Linked DNA regions of Homo sapiens. The protein of the gene in region 1 interacts with the protein of each later gene in a biochemical or structural test. Each region holds a gene or a part of one and is shown in the gene's direction. Other genes may lie near its edges.

Region 1 (7,741 bases):
CTATTTTTATTATATGGTGTATTTGCTACCTCACAGCGTTCTGAGGATTAAATGAGAAAAACCTCACTTTAGAAAATAGGTAAGAAAGCAGCAGCCTATCAACGATGATGCTGTGGCTGTTTTTATTACTGCCCTGGGCAAAGGATTCTCTTGGAGCTCTTTGCCTGTTACAGAGGTGGGAAGAAAGGCCAAGGAGGGAGAGGGCTGTGCAGCCAGGCTGGAGTTGGGTCAGATGGGGGAGATTTACCACTCAGGGTGCTGTCAAATTTGGGTCACAGACTAGTGAAGGGAGGGTGGAGAAAGCAGGAGCTGGGCTCAGAAAAGGGCTATTTCCCGCAAAATCTGCTTCCCCCACCTAATGCTGTGGCAGGGGTTAGAAAGGGAGACTGCCTGGACGCCCTGCTTGGTTGCTGTGGAAGTGTGCGGGAGTCTGTTTTTTCTTTTTGTTTTCTCCAGCCCATCCTTCCGGAAATCACGAATGTCCCGTGCCCAGAGCTTCCCTGACAACAGACAGGAATACTCAGGTGAGTTCCACAGAGCCTGGGTGGGTAATGCAGGGTGTCTGGGTGGGGCCTCAGGTGGCTCTGCTTCGACTTTTCTGAGTCAGTAGCTCTCCTTGGGCTTGCTGCTTTGAGGTCTCAGGTGCCTTGGGGACTTGGGGGCTTAAGTGGCTCACATTGACCTACCCAGAAGCCAGTGATTCCCCTGTCTTACTCAGATCGGGAAACTCAGCTTTATGACAAAGGGGTCAAAGGTGGAACCTACCCCCGGCGCTACCACGTGTCTGTGCACCACAAGGACTACAGTGATGGTGAGTTCTTCTTCACCTGCTCCCTGCTGGCTGCCTCAAGAAAGGACAAGTTGCCATGGGGAGGGTGGGTTCGTCCATGCAGTGCCTGTATTTTCCTTCATTCCTGAGGATTTGTGGCCCAGACTTGAGGCATGGGAGACAGGAAAAAAACAAAAACAAAAACAGGGAAGATAGTATTTGTAGACCAGATGCTGCCACTGGGAACTCTGACCTTGTTTGAAGCCAGTGGTGTGCTCCAGGGGCACCATCTCTCCCATGTCCTCTTCTGCCCCACAGCAGCAGGTGGCCTGGGCCCTGTAGAGGGGTAAGGAGTAGGATACAAGGAAATCAGTGCCTTCGGGTGTGGCTTGGCCTTGCAAGCAATTGGGAGCCTGTTGGCCAGCCATACACCTTCCCTTTGGCCAGATCTCCCTGAACCAGACTACTTCCTAATTTCTGCTTTTGTCCTGATTCTTGGAGTGCTTGGGACAGCAGCCTCTGTGGAATGAGTCAGGTGGGAGTGCGGACGGGATGGGCTGGAGCTGGTATTATCTATCACTTCTGGCTGAGACCTGGTTTGTATATTCCGCCTTGTAGCCCGGGGTGTCTCAGACCTGGTTTGTACGTTCCGCCTCGTAGCCTGGGGTGTGACTTGCTCTCCTCTGGCCCTTGCACCCTTTCAGGCAGAAGAACATTTCCCCGAATACGGCGTCATCAAGGCAACTTGTTCACCCTGGTGCCCTCCAGCCGCTCCCTGAGCACAAATGGCGAGAACATGGGTCTGGCTGTGCAATACCTGGACCCCCGTGGGCGCCTGCGGAGTGCGGACAGCGAGAATGCCCTCTCTGTGCAGGAGAGGAATGTGCCAACCAAGTGTGAGGAGCTGTCCCTGGCTAGGAGGAGACTGCCCAGGTGGTCTCAGACAAGCTACGGGGGCAAACAGCTGGGCCCCTGGGACCCTTAGGCTCAGCAGGTGGTGGCTTTGGCCCAAATGCACCACATGGGATAAGCCTTGGAGTGTCTGAAGCCTGGCTCCACTATTGTGTGACAAGCCTCTTCTCCTCTCTGATCTTTAGTTTTTCCATGTTTAAACTAGGGAAGAGCACACCCTTCATCCCTGCCATATTAAGATATTTAGGGGCTTTGGAAGGAAATGCATTTGATCAATGCAGAAGAGCATTTAACCATGACTTCAGCCAATCCTCTGCTTCTTAGGACTCTGACTTCAGGTCCGAGTGACTAGGGCACTGGGCTTGCTCCAGATTGTGGTGGAGATGCTCTACTAAGAGATGATGGGTGCTGGGTGAGGGGGAGCCTGAGCCAGAGACCCTGTTCCTGGAGAATGAATGGGATATTCATAAATAATGTACACAAAGTAACTCTTTCCTTCTGCTCTCCTGTAGCTCCCAGTGCCCCCATCAACTGGCGCCGGGGAAAGCTCCTGGGCCAGGGTGCCTTCGGCAGGGTCTATTTGTGCTATGACGTGGACACGGGACGTGAACTTGCTTCCAAGCAGGTCCAATTTGATCCAGACAGTCCTGAGACAAGCAAGGTACACTTAACCCGTGGTCTGACTTCAGTTCCCTCCTTTCAACAAAAATGCCTGTCTTACCACACAGAGTAGTTGCCTGAGATGCTGTAGGTTGCTTCCTCTGTCATTCTTCCCAAACTCCCTTTCTGTCCATCCTGGTCCCAGCCACAGGGTGAAAGGACTGTGGTCTGAAGAGCACCAAGCACCTGGAGGGGAGGGATTGGGTGTAAGGAACTAAGCTGATGCCAAAGTACCAAGTAACCCAAACTGAGAGGTGATGACCTGTGACACAGAGGGGACTCCCTCCCCTAGACAAGTATCTCTCCCCAGCTCTCAGCCCAGGAAGGAGCTGTGGGGCTCCTTCACTTGGTCCAGCTCTAGAGGAGGAATCATATGGCCTGTCTTTGCAGTTCAGCTTTCAACGTCGCTTATACTTCAAGTTCTGTGGACAAACAGCAGTTACCTTAACTAAGCACCCACGGCCCCTTCTCCCACCTCCCTGCCTCCTTCCACCCATGGGAGTGCCACCATCCCAAGGCCTGCCCAGCATTGTGGCCAAGAGCTAGACAGTTAAGAGAGTCCCCCTTTTCTCCAACTGCAGTTCCCAAGGCAGATCCCTGTGAGGCCACTAACTAGGGCAAGCTGAGCTGAACCCAGGCGGGCAGAACTAGGGCCCTGAGAGCTGAGGCGACCACTGACCCCTCCCCTAGGAGGTGAGTGCTCTGGAGTGCGAGATCCAGTTGCTAAAGAACTTGCAGCATGAGCGCATCGTGCAGTACTATGGCTGTCTGCGGGACCGCGCTGAGAAGACCCTGACCATCTTCATGGAGTACATGCCAGGGGTACGTGCCCCTTGAATGCATGTGAGACACACACAAAAGAGGGCCTGACCTGGGGGCTGGGGCCTGCAGGAGGGGGGTCACCTTGGATAGGAGTTTGAACACCTGAGGCTCCAGAGGCCCAGAGGAGCAAAGTGAGGTGATGGTGGGACTTGGAGTCAGGAGGGCCCTGCCTCAGGTTGCAGTGGGAGTATGAGATGACAGCTGTCCTAGGTCCAGCACTCCCCTGAGGCATGCAGGGCTGGCCCACTGTCCAGTAAATGCAGCCTTCATCTGGAGCAGAGAGGCCTCCCTGCTCCTGGATTTGGGTGGCGCTCTGCTTGAGAAGGACTTGGGGTACTCTCTTTTCCAAACTGCCTGACAGCTCCTGGCAAAATGCCCTGCCCAGCCAGATAGGAATTGAACAAATCACTCCTTTGCTGCCATGCTGGGGGCTGGAATGGGCTTGCCCCTCCACCAGCCCTCCCCTGAGGGGACTCCTCTGACTTCTTGTGGCCTCCAGGGCTCGGTGAAAGACCAGTTGAAGGCTTACGGTGCTCTGACAGAGAGCGTGACCCGAAAGTACACGCGGCAGATCCTGGAGGGCATGTCCTACCTGCACAGCAACATGATTGTTCACCGGGACATTAAGGGTGAGCAGGGCCAGGATACATGGAGTCCCCAGGACCTGGGTTCAAGTCTACCATTGAGTGCCTGCAGGGGCCAATCACTTAACCATTCTGAACTTTCTGAAAAGTGGGACCCCAGTTGTTTCCCTGAGGAACTGGTGAGATTGGTTGAGCAATATGAGAGAATATTGCCAAGTTCCCTCTACATGTGGGCCTTGGAGATGGTCATTTTGTGCGGTAGATCTGAGACTCCCCTTTGCTAAATCCTTTGCCCTTTGCAGTTCATGTCTAATTCAGTGGTAGCCCTGCCCTCTCCAGCAGCTCTCAGTGACCCGGGGGTGGGGAGGATGGGAGAAAATGCAAGAGGGTCCAGGGTTGCAGCCTCTGCCCTTTCATGCCTCAGGAGCCAACATCCTCCGAGACTCTGCTGGGAATGTAAAGCTGGGGGACTTTGGGGCCAGCAAACGCCTGCAGACGATCTGTATGTCGGGGACGGGCATGCGCTCCGTCACTGGCACACCCTACTGGATGAGCCCTGAGGTGATCAGCGGCGAGGGCTATGGAAGGAAAGCAGACGTGTGGTGAGCACTGGGACATGCAGAACCCATTCTTCCACCCAGGCCATAGTGGCCCCCCATTAGAAACACACCCTGGGGACTTTGTGGTGTGGCAGGAGGGAGTGTGCCCAGGGCCCAGGCTGCAGTGTGTGCAAGGGTATTATTGGGTGCAGTAGCACACACACCACATGGGTGGTGCTCAAAGCACACTCCATTAGAGCTGGGAACTTAGGCCATGGAAAACATCCCTCATGTTTGCTAAATCTCTTAAGGAAGCAGGATCCACTCTGAAGGCCTGAAGGCCTGGACCAGTCTCTCAACAGGAGCAGGCTTCTGTCCCTTCTCCTAGCACTCAAGACAGTTTGCACTTGCTCGACATAACCTTGTGTCTATCCTCTGAAATGGCCCCTAAGTCAGGAGAGCTTCTCCCCTTGGAAAGCTATTGTGGTGGGCTGAATAATGGCCCCCCCAAAGATGTCCACTGCCTAATCCCTGGATCTGTAAATGTGATTGTATATAGCAAAGGGCCTTTGCAGATAGGATTAGGTTAAGGGTTTTGAGATGGATGGATTATCCTGGATTAAGGGTCCTTACAGAAGGGTCTCAAGAGGTCAGAGTGGCTAATAGGAGGTGAGACAATGAAAGCAAGAGGTTGGAGTAATACAAGGAGGGGACCATGAGCCACGAAATGCAGGTGGCCTCTAGAACCCAGGAAAGGCAAGGAAACAGGTTCTCCCCTCAGAGCCTCTGACAGGAACCAGCCCTGCCGCCACCTTGACTTTAGCCCTGTGAGACTGATTTTAGACCTCTGACCTTCAGAACTGTAAGATGATACATTTGTGTTGTTTTCCTGCCTCTAAGTTTGTGGTCATTTGTTAAGAGCAGCTATGGGTAGCTAATACAGTTATTGTAGAGTTCTTTCTGTCAAGTCTAAGTGATTCTCTTTTTCCTTATTTCAAGAAGTACCCAGGTGTGTGGTGAGTGTAGGTCCATGAAGCCCACGTGGACAGACATCCAAGCTGAGGTATCCCTCAGCTTGGCCTGTCCTGCACCTCAGCTTGCTGTGAGAAAGGCGCCTCTTTCTGCAGTGGTGGGCAGGACAGCTGGGAGTCCAGGGCTGGCTGAGGGGTGACACGGGGTTCTCTCTTTCCAGGAGCCTGGGCTGCACTGTGGTGGAGATGCTGACAGAGAAACCACCGTGGGCAGAGTATGAAGCTATGGCCGCCATCTTCAAGATTGCCACCCAGCCCACCAATCCTCAGCTGCCCTCCCACATCTCTGAACATGGCCGGGACTTCCTGAGGCGCATTTTTGTGGAGGCTCGCCAGAGACCTTCAGCTGAGGAGCTGCTCACACACCACTTTGCACAGCTCATGTACTGAGCTCTCACGGCCACACAGCTGCCGGTCGCCCTTTGCTGCATGGCAGGGGGCTGCTGCTGGGCTCAGTGAAGTTGCTGCTTCTCCCAGGCAAGGCTGTGGACCATGGAGTGGCAGCCCAGCCAGCGTCGGTCTGTGCCCCTTCCGCCACTGGGGCTCAGAGCCGGGGTGGGGTGGCTGCAGCCTCAGGACTGGGAGCCCCCAGCCTGTCAGATCCAGGAGCTCCAGTGTCCTGAGCTCAGCGTGGAGGGGTAGGGGCTGGGAACAGTGTGCAAGGCAGCCGTGGGCCCCACCCTCGGGGATGTGTCCTGACACTGCAATTGGCACCGAAGCCCAGAGGGTCTGGGGGCACAAGACTGACGCCAGGGTATGAAGAGTGTTATTTTCATTCAAAGTGTTATTTTGTTTTTCCTTCCAATGTCTGGAGACCACCAGGGCATCTCTGGGCTGGATGAGCTCCCACAAGCCTGAGGGAAAGGCCAGCACTCGCTAGCAGTGGCAGGCAGAGGCCCAGGCTGCCGTCCCCTAGAGTCCCAGGTTGGCTCTGCCAGTCCTGTCCTTTACCAAAGATGAATGAAGCAAATGTCATGCTGCCTTATTCAGGGAAGGAGGAGCCTGTCCTGCCTGTGGCCATGACCCTGCCTCTCCCAGGCAGGGGCCCGCGATGTGGAACTGCTGCCACTGAGGGGGGATCCAGTTTTGTCAATGCAGTTGTCTCTGTTTTACAAGTTGGAGTCACTCTTATGCTGTACCCAGTTTCTAAACTGGAGACTGTGTGTGCCCTCTGGGCTCTGAGTACCCCTGCTTTGGGCTTGGGCCTAGGCTGCATTGAAAAGAGCTGAAGGTTGTGGCCTTTGCGCTCCTGGCCCAGCCTTTGTTCCCCACTGGAGCAGAAGGGGAGATGGACGACACGGTCGGGGCATCTGGCCTGGCCAGTGCCCTGATCCCAGAGAGCCCGAGGAGGTGTCTCAGGCTGCCTGAGTCGTGACCTGCTAGGCCAGAGCCCACTCCATCTGGTAGAAGGGAAAGCCCATATGCTACCACCAGCTGTGTCCAAAACCGCCAGCTCTGTTCTTCCTCAGCCAGCCTCGCCCATCCCCTTGAGGTCTCAGCCCCTTTCCCTTGTAGCTCCTCCCCTGGAGGGGGAATGGCAGCAGGGGTTGGGGAAACAGCATCTCCAAGCAGCTTAGAGTTGGCCATATTTACCTCAGCCTGGGCGCTGGTCCTTTCTTCCGGCCCCTCCCCTCCAAAATGTGCCTATTGCTAGAGCTCCTCCCTCTCAACACCCAGTTTCCTTGGGAGTTGTCATTAAAGGAAAAAAAAAAAAAAAAAAGCCAGTGCCCAGGGATGGGCATCTCCAGGGAGCTGGGGATTAGTGCCAGGCAGCCCTGCCAGCCATGCCTACATCCCCATGGGCACAGAACAAGCCAAAGCCTTCGTTGTATGTTGACGATGCACTTTTATGAATGTAGTTTCTATCGCTGTTTTTAGCCTTTTCACATCATGTAATGTGAGGCCTTGTACTTGTTAATTTATATCTCAGATCATATTTGATGGTTTTTATATATATCAATTCTAGACTGTTACAGGTGACGGACGCCTCAAGAGAGAGAAGAGAAAATGAAAGCAGCTGGTTTTGCAGAAGTGTGTGTCGCATGCGCCAGTTGGGCCTGGACCCTCCTGTGTCCATCCCTGTTCCCCCAGGGGCTCTATCAGCCCCTGTACCCCACACTGCCCTCTGAAGACAACACAGGCTCCTGCTTCCACCTCGGCCCTTGCCCAGGGTGGGGCCTGGCCCTCATCTTGACCAAAGCTGCTGTGTGGCAGCTCGGCCTCTCTACGACCCCATCTTGGTGGCTGCACACTCTTCCTGGCCCGCACCCCCATCCCCAGTCCCTGTTCCCCAAGAGGATACAGAGCACGGTGCTGGCTGACTCAACTGTGCGTCCCAGGTTCAGGGTCTTACAGAGCTCCACCCCCTGGGGTCTTACCTCACTGGGAATGTGTTTTGAAAATGAATTTGAAGACAAGCCAACA
Region 2 (7,371 bases), on another chromosome or scaffold:
GGGTGGAGTGCAATGACATGATCTCAGCTCATTGCCAAGATCAAGCAATTCTCCTGCCTCAGCCTCCCGAGTAGCTGGGATTATAGGCATGCGCCACCTCGCCCGGCTAACTGTATTTTTAGTTGAGTTGGGGTTTCTCCATGTTGGTCAGGCTGGTCTTGAACTCCCAACCTCAGGTGATCCACCTGCCTCGGCCTCCCAAAGTGCTGGGATTGCAGGCATGAGCCACTGTGCCCGGCCAGGATCCCCCATTTTTAAATGAGGATAATGGACTCAACGGAACATTTGAGTTGTGCTAGCATAGGAAGGAGATTCTAGGCTGCATTCCTAAAACCTGGATATGGGAAATAATAGTAATAGTAGTGGTGGTAGTAGAAGGTACCTCTTATAAAATGCTTCTTTAGGGCTGGGCACGGTGGCTCACACCTGTAATCCCAGCACTTTGGGAGGCTGAGGCGGGCGGATCATGAGGTCAGGAGATCGAGATCAGCCTGGCTAACATGGTGAAATTCCGTCTCTACTAAAAATACGACAAAAAATTAGCCGGGCGTGGTGGCACGCACCTGTAATCTCAGCTACTCCGGAGGCTGAGGCAGGAGAATTGCTTGAACCCGGGAGGCAGAGGTTGCAGTGAGCTGAGATTGCGCCACTGCACTCCAGCCGGGTGACAGAGCCAGACTCTGTCTCAAAAAAAAAAAAATGCTTCTTTAGTGCGTGACAGAGCCAGACTCTGTCTCAAAAAAAAAAAAAATGCTTCTTTAGTGCGAGGAACTGTTCATCTCTATCCTTACGATAGTGCTATAAGGTAGGTATGGTTGTCATCCCATTTTGTAGATGAGAAAACTGAGGTGCAGACTTTCTGGATATTACTCAGCTAATAAGTGGCGAGCCAGGATTGAACCCAGGCAGGCAGTCTGGCCCAAGGTGTTATTGAGCACCAAGCTCCACAGATAAGGGTTTGGTTGTTCTTTTTTTTTTTTTTTGATTCGGAGTCTCGCCCTATCACCCAGGCTGGGGTGCAATGGCATGATCTCAGCTCACTGCAACCTCTGCCTCCCGAGTTCAAGAGATTCTCCTGCCCCAGCCTCCCGAGTAGCTGAGATTACAGGCACGTGCCACCACGCCCAGCTAATTTTTTGTATCTTTAGTAGAGGCAGGGTTTCACCATGTTGGCCAGGCTGCTCTCAAACTCCTGACCTCGTGATCCGCCCGCCTCTGCCTCTCAAAGAGTTGGGATTACAGGTGTGAGCCACCGTGCCTGGCCTAGTTGTTCTTAAGGCAGGGAAATGGAGGCCTGAGGCAGAGGAGTGTCTGGATACACACCAAGTGCTGGCCCCCAACCTGCTTTTCTCTTACTACCACTTCCCCCACCCCAAGGTGCAACTCATCTGCCATATGTAGAAAGGGAGACCTCAGACCTCCAGATGCCTTGCCATGTCTAATACACGGGACCCACAGGCTGGACCCGGTGCTCCTCTCCTGTTCTCTCATCCCTAGATAGGTGACAAGTCCACATCATTGTTTTTATAAAAAATTCAGAGGATGCAATTAATAACATTTCTGTCTTCCTTCCCTCCCCCACCCCAGAGGATTTCAAGTTCTTCTATTATTATGGTAAGGAGTAAGAGTTTGGGATGGGAGCTGGAGAGGAGCGGGAGATGGCAGGTATGAGGCCAAGAGGTCACCTTTCCCTTTCCCTGTGGTGAGGGTACCCAGCTGGACATGGCCTCTGCCTAGTCCTATTCTAGACTCTGTTTGGGGGCAAGGGCTGTCCTGTGGTTTAGCTTCTTTCCTCTCCCAACAGGGGGCTGCCTGGACAGTCCAGGAGTACCTGTGGGCAGACAGCCCTGCAAATACCTGTATTTAGACTTCTGAAAATGGACTTCATGGGGCTGTAACACCTGTGTCTGGGAGCTATGCCTTTAAAAAGGGATAGCTTTTAGGCTGGGCACGGTGGCTCACACCTGTAATCCCAACACTTTGGGAGGCCGAGGCAGGTGGATTAATTTAGGTCAGGAGTTCAAGACCAGCCTGGCCAACGTGGAGAAACCCCATCTCTACAAAAAATACAAAAAGTAGCTGGCATGGTGGCGGGTGCCTGTAATCCCAGCTACTCGGGAGGCTGAGGCAGGAGAATCACTTGAACCTGGGAGGTGCAGGTTGCAGTGAGCCAACATTCTGCCACTGCACTCCAGCCTGGATGACAGAGCGAGACTCCATCTCAAAAATAAATAAATAAAATAAAAATAAAAAGAGATAATTTTAAAAATTAGCTGCATTTCTCCCATTATAAAAGCAGTATCATACTACACAATGGAAGTAAGGCAGAAAAAAAGCAGTGTCAGCTTGTAGAAAATTTAGAAATGCAGAAGTAATCTAATTCTACTACAGGAGATAGTCATTAACACAGTGGTGGACTTGGGCTTGTTCTTACCTTTTCTGAACCTCGTTTTTGGTTCTGTGCATGTGTTTTAATGTGAGCGAGCTCATTTTGTGTATCTAGTTTTGTACTGTATTTTTTTTTTATGTATGTATGTATGTATTTATTTATTTTTTGAGACGGCGTCTCGCTGTCTCCCAGGCTGGAGTGCAGTGGCGTGATCTCGGCTCACTGCAAGCTCCGCCTCCCGGGTTCACGCCATTCTCCTGCCTCAGCCTCCCGAGTAGCTGGGACTACAGGCACCCACCACCACGCCCGACTAATTTTTTGTATTTTTAGTAGAGACGGGGTGGATGGTCTCGATCTCCTGACCTCGTGATCTGCCCGCCTCGGCCTCCCAAAGTGTTGGGATTACAGGCGTGAGCCACCGCGCCCGGCCTGTGTATTTACTTTTTGAAGATGGAGTCTCGCTCTGTCGCCCAGGCTGGAGCTGGAGTGCAGTGGCATGAGCTCAGCTCACTGCAACGTCCGCCTCCTGGGTTTGAGCAATTCTCTTGCCTCAGCCTCCCAAGTAGCTGGGACTACAGGCACCCACCACCAGGCCTGGCTAATTTTTTGTATTTTAGTAGAGACAGGGTTTCACTGTGTTGTCCAGGCTGGTCTCAAACTCCTGAGGTCAGGCAATCCACCTGCCTTGGCCTCCCAAAGTGCTGGGATTACAGGCGTGAGCCACCGCACTTGGCCTTGTACTATCATTATTTAACTTAGCATAGGAAGCAATTTTCTGTCATTATGTAGTTTTAGGCCTTTTGTTTTATTTCAAAATTTTATCAGTATGATAACACATACATTGTTCAGATATTACTACTATTGGGGTTGGAATGCAACTCTTAGCTCTTTCCTCATTAGATTCCTTTAGATTTTCACATTAGATTCTTTTCCTACTTTAGATTAGATTCCTTTAGATTTTCACATTGGATTCTTTTCCTACTTTTTTTTTTTTTTTTTTGAGATTTAGATATTATCAATTGACTTTCTACCATGGAAAATAAGTCCTCATCATTCTTATGCCTTTCTGCAGACATTTCCCTTCCTCCAAAAATACCACCATTTTGGGCAAATTACTATGAACGTGAAAATATTTTTTACAACTAAACTATGTATTACATAGTTTTCTTTTCTTTTTTTTTTTTTTGAGGCAGAGTCTCACTCTGTCATCCAGGCTGGAGTGCAATGGCGCAATCTTGGCTCACTGCAACCTCCTGGGTTCAAGTGATTCTCCTGCCTCAGCCTCCCGAGTAGCTGGGATTACAGGCACCCGCCACCACACCCGGCTAATTTTGTATTTTTAGTAAGAGATGGGGTTTCACCTTGCTGGCCAGCTGGTCTGGAACTCCTGACCTCAAGTGATACACCCACCTTGGCCAAAGTGCTGGGATTACAGGCATGAGCCACTCACTGCACCTGGCCCATAGTTTTTATAAACATAATATTAACTCCTGATATTCCATTTATTCATTTTCTGTTATAAATGAGGTTGTTAAAAGTATTTGTGCACAAAGCTTTTTTTTTTTTTTTTCTTTTTGCCTGGCTACCTCTGTCTCCTCCAAAGCTTTTTTTTTTTAATTTAGGATTTTTATTAAGCTAAATTTCTAGTAAAGTCCTAAGACATGGGAATGAATTTCTTTCTTTTACCTTTTTAAATTTGAAAATTTTTATCTTTAGAGACAGTGTTGTTTTGTTGTTCAGGCTGGAGTGCAGTTGGTGTGATCATAGCTCATGGGAGACTTGAACTCCTGGGCGCAAGGGATCCTCCAACCTTGAGTAGCTGGAACTCCAGTAAGCTTCCTGAGTAGCTGGAACTGCAGGCATGTGCCACCACACCTGGCTAATTAAAAAAAATTTTTTGTAGAGATGGGGTCTTGCTACGTTGTTCAGGCTGGTTTCAAACTTCTGGCTTCAAGTAATCCTCCTGCTTTGGCTTCCCAAAGTGTTGGGATTACAGGCTTTGGCCACTGTGCCTGGCCTTTCTTTTACCTTTTGTTTTGTTTTTTTTTTTTGAGACAAAGTCTCGCTCTTGTCCCCCAGGCTGGAGTGCAATGGCATGATCTCGGCTCACTGCAACCTCCGCCTCCTGGGTTCAAGCGATTCTCCTGCCTCAGCCTCCCAAGTAGCTGGGATTACAGGCGCCTGCCACCACGCCTGGCTAATGTTTGTATTTTTAGTAGAGATGGGGTTTCACCATGTTGGCCTGGCTGGTCTTGAACTCTTGACCTCAGGTGATCTGCCCTCCTCGGCCTCCCAAAGTGCTGGGATTACAAGTGTGAGCCACTGCGCCCGGCCTCTTCTACCTTTTGATTGGAGACTGTCATACATTCAGTAAAGGATCTTAAGTGTACTGCTCAATAAATTTTAGGTATGTATCTGCCATGCACCACCTTGCAGGTCCAGTCAAGATACAGGATGTTTACATTACTCAGAAGGCTCCTCATGTCTCTTCTTATTCCTCATGTGTCTTCTTATTCATCATGTGTCTTCTTAGCAATACCCACCCCATTTCCCCTGGCAACGTAATCACTTTTTTGACTTCTGTCACCATCAATCTATCAATTAGCTTTACCTGTTCATGAACTGGAATGAACGTTTTAAAGGCTCTTGATGCACAAGCAGTGGGCATCTCTTTGGGTGATGTGACTTCTTGACTGCTCCCTGCCAGGGCTACAGCACAGTTATCTCTGTAACCCTGGCCTTAGCTCCTTCGGGGCAGGAGACAGCTGCTCACTGCCCAGGCCTGTGCAGGCATAAACAGACTTGGGGATGGCCAGGCCCAGGGTGGGAGGCATATCTTGGGAAGTGGATTTCAACAGGTGACTTGTTTGACCAGGCCCAGCCGCAGCCCCAGCCCCAGCCCCAGCCCCAAGCCCAGTCTCAGCCACCGTCATCCAACAAGCGTCCCAGCAATAGCACGCCGCCCCCCACGCAGCTCAGCAAAATCAAGTACTCAGGGGGGCCCCAGATTGTCAAGAAGGAGCGACGGCAAAGCTCCTCCCGCTTCAACCTCAGCAAGAATCGGGAGCTGCAGAAGCTTCCTGCCCTGAAAGGTACTTGGCAATTGGTCACAGGGGCTGTTTTACCAGTTCTAGTGGGCATCGGGAGTTGGTGGAATGGAAGTTTTGGGGTATTTTGCGGGGAAGGGAGTTCCAGAGAATGCGGGAAGGGGGTGCCAGGGAGCAGGATGGTGGCAGGGTGGGGTAAGGGAAAGCCCTTGAAGGCAAGCAGGGCATCGCAGTGAAGGACTACAGAGGAGAACCTGACTGCTGGGGCCCCCACAGATTCGCCAACCCAGGAGCGGGAGGAGCTGTTTATCCAGAAGCTACGCCAGTGCTGTGTCCTCTTTGACTTCGTGTCAGACCCACTCAGTGACCTCAAATTCAAGGAGGTGAAGCGGGCAGGACTCAACGAGATGGTGGAGTACATCACCCATAGCCGTGATGTTGTCACTGAGGCCATTTACCCTGAGGCTGTCACCATGGTGGGCACAGGGAAAGGACACAGGGGGGACTGGTGAGGGGCTCTGGAGAAGCCCAGGTGGAGCTCTAACTGGCCCTACCCCTCAGTTTTCAGTGAACCTCTTCCGGACGCTGCCACCTTCATCGAATCCCACAGGGGCTGAGTTTGACCCAGAGGAAGATGAGCCCACCCTGGAAGCTGCTTGGCCACATCTCCAGGTACCAGGGCAAGGGGGCAGATTGGCCGTGGCTGCAGGGAGTGGGGCACTTGGAGGCCTGCAAGTCCTTGGGAACATCCCCTCAGTGGCGTGCCTTTTCCCCTATAGCTCGTGTATGAGTTCTTCTTACGTTTCCTTGAGTCTCCTGATTTCCAGCCAAACATAGCCAAGAAGTACATCGACCAGAAGTTTGTACTTGCTGTGAGTCCCCGAGTTCCTGTCCTTGCCCTCTCTTTCCATTCCATGCCCCCTTCATCTGTGTCCCAGTGGCTCTTTCCCCTTAAGCTGAATATATTGGGTTTCATCCATGTCTGGTACGAGGAGGCTATAAAGGGTAAAAAACAAAACAAAACAAAACCCTACTCTGGCCTTAAGAAACTAACAACATAATGGTAGGAAACAAAAAAGCAACAGAGTACCTCTCTCAGGTCAATAGTGAGGCATCACTTTGGAAGTCTCAGTACAAATACAATAGAATCAGCAATATAATAGAATCACTGCTTTCTAAGACTTGCTGGCCCCCACTCCAGGGGACCTCTGCATTTCCCCTGGCGGGACCTATGTCACCCTGGCCACTGCCTTCCCTGGCTGCTGCCTCACTGGCTGCTTTCCCTCCCTTGTACCCCCAGCTCCTAGACCTATTTGACAGTGAGGATCCTCGAGAGCGGGACTTCCTCAAGACCATTTTGCATCGCATCTATGGCAAGTTTTTGGGGCTCCGGGCTTATATCCGTAGGCAGATCAACCACATCTTCTACAGGTGAGGCCAGGAGCCCAGGCTTAGGAGCAAAACCTTCTGCTACTGAGGTGGGGTGGGAGCAGGGAGGTGGGGGGACTGTACAGAATGCTGGAGGGACATCAGGGGTTGTCAAGAGAGCCATTTTTCTTCCCTCAGGTTCATCTACGAGACGGAGCATCACAACGGGATTGCTGAGCTCCTGGAGATCCTGGGCAGGTGAGAGGCCGGGTGGGGGCACAGATGCCTGAAAAAGGTTGGCAGGATTGGTGTACTGAACTTGGATCTGACCCTCTGGTCCTAACAAATGTCCCTTAATTCCTAGCATCATCAATGGCTTTGCCCTGCCCCTTAAAGAAGAGCACAAGATGTTCCTCATCCGTGTCCTACTTCCCCTTCACAAGGTCAAGTCCCTGAGTGTCTACCACCCTCAGGTGAGCTGCCTTCCTCCTTATAATGTCCAACTCAGGCAGCAGAGAAAAGAGCCGGCAGGAAAGTGTTCCAGCTGGGATAGGGGAAGCATAGGGA

The links.
Region 2: of the proteins of MAP3K3 (region 1) and PPP2R5D, one has a biochemical effect on the other in vitro, tested with the Homo sapiens proteins (one study listed by IntAct).

Annotation. Positions count from the first base shown.
Region 1 is NC_000017.11:63,688,071-63,695,811, forward strand, and holds part of MAP3K3 (mitogen-activated protein kinase kinase kinase 3), read left to right. Parts: intron 1-456; coding exon 457-524; intron 525-718; coding exon 719-811; intron 812-1,022; exon of another isoform or gene 1,023-1,105; intron 1,106-1,473; coding exon 1,474-1,665; intron 1,666-2,193; coding exon 2,194-2,342; intron 2,343-2,402; exon of another isoform or gene 2,403-2,922; coding exon of another isoform or gene 2,923-2,967; exon of another isoform or gene 2,968-3,010; intron 3,011-3,031; coding exon 3,032-3,163; intron 3,164-3,662; coding exon 3,663-3,792; intron 3,793-4,171; coding exon 4,172-4,349; intron 4,350-5,478; coding exon 5,479-5,707; 3' UTR 5,708-7,741. UniProt on the Homo sapiens protein: Component of a protein kinase signal transduction cascade. Mediates activation of the NF-kappa-B, AP1 and DDIT3 transcriptional regulators.
Region 2 is NC_000006.12:43,001,199-43,008,569, forward strand, and holds part of PPP2R5D (serine/threonine-protein phosphatase 2A 56 kDa regulatory subunit delta isoform), read left to right. Parts: intron 1-5,247; exon of another isoform or gene 5,248-5,264; coding exon 5,265-5,481; intron 5,482-5,712; coding exon 5,713-5,912; intron 5,913-5,997; coding exon 5,998-6,108; intron 6,109-6,215; coding exon 6,216-6,308; intron 6,309-6,736; coding exon 6,737-6,867; intron 6,868-7,002; coding exon 7,003-7,062; intron 7,063-7,168; coding exon 7,169-7,277; intron 7,278-7,371. UniProt on the Homo sapiens protein: The B regulatory subunit might modulate substrate selectivity and catalytic activity, and might also direct the localization of the catalytic enzyme to a particular subcellular compartment.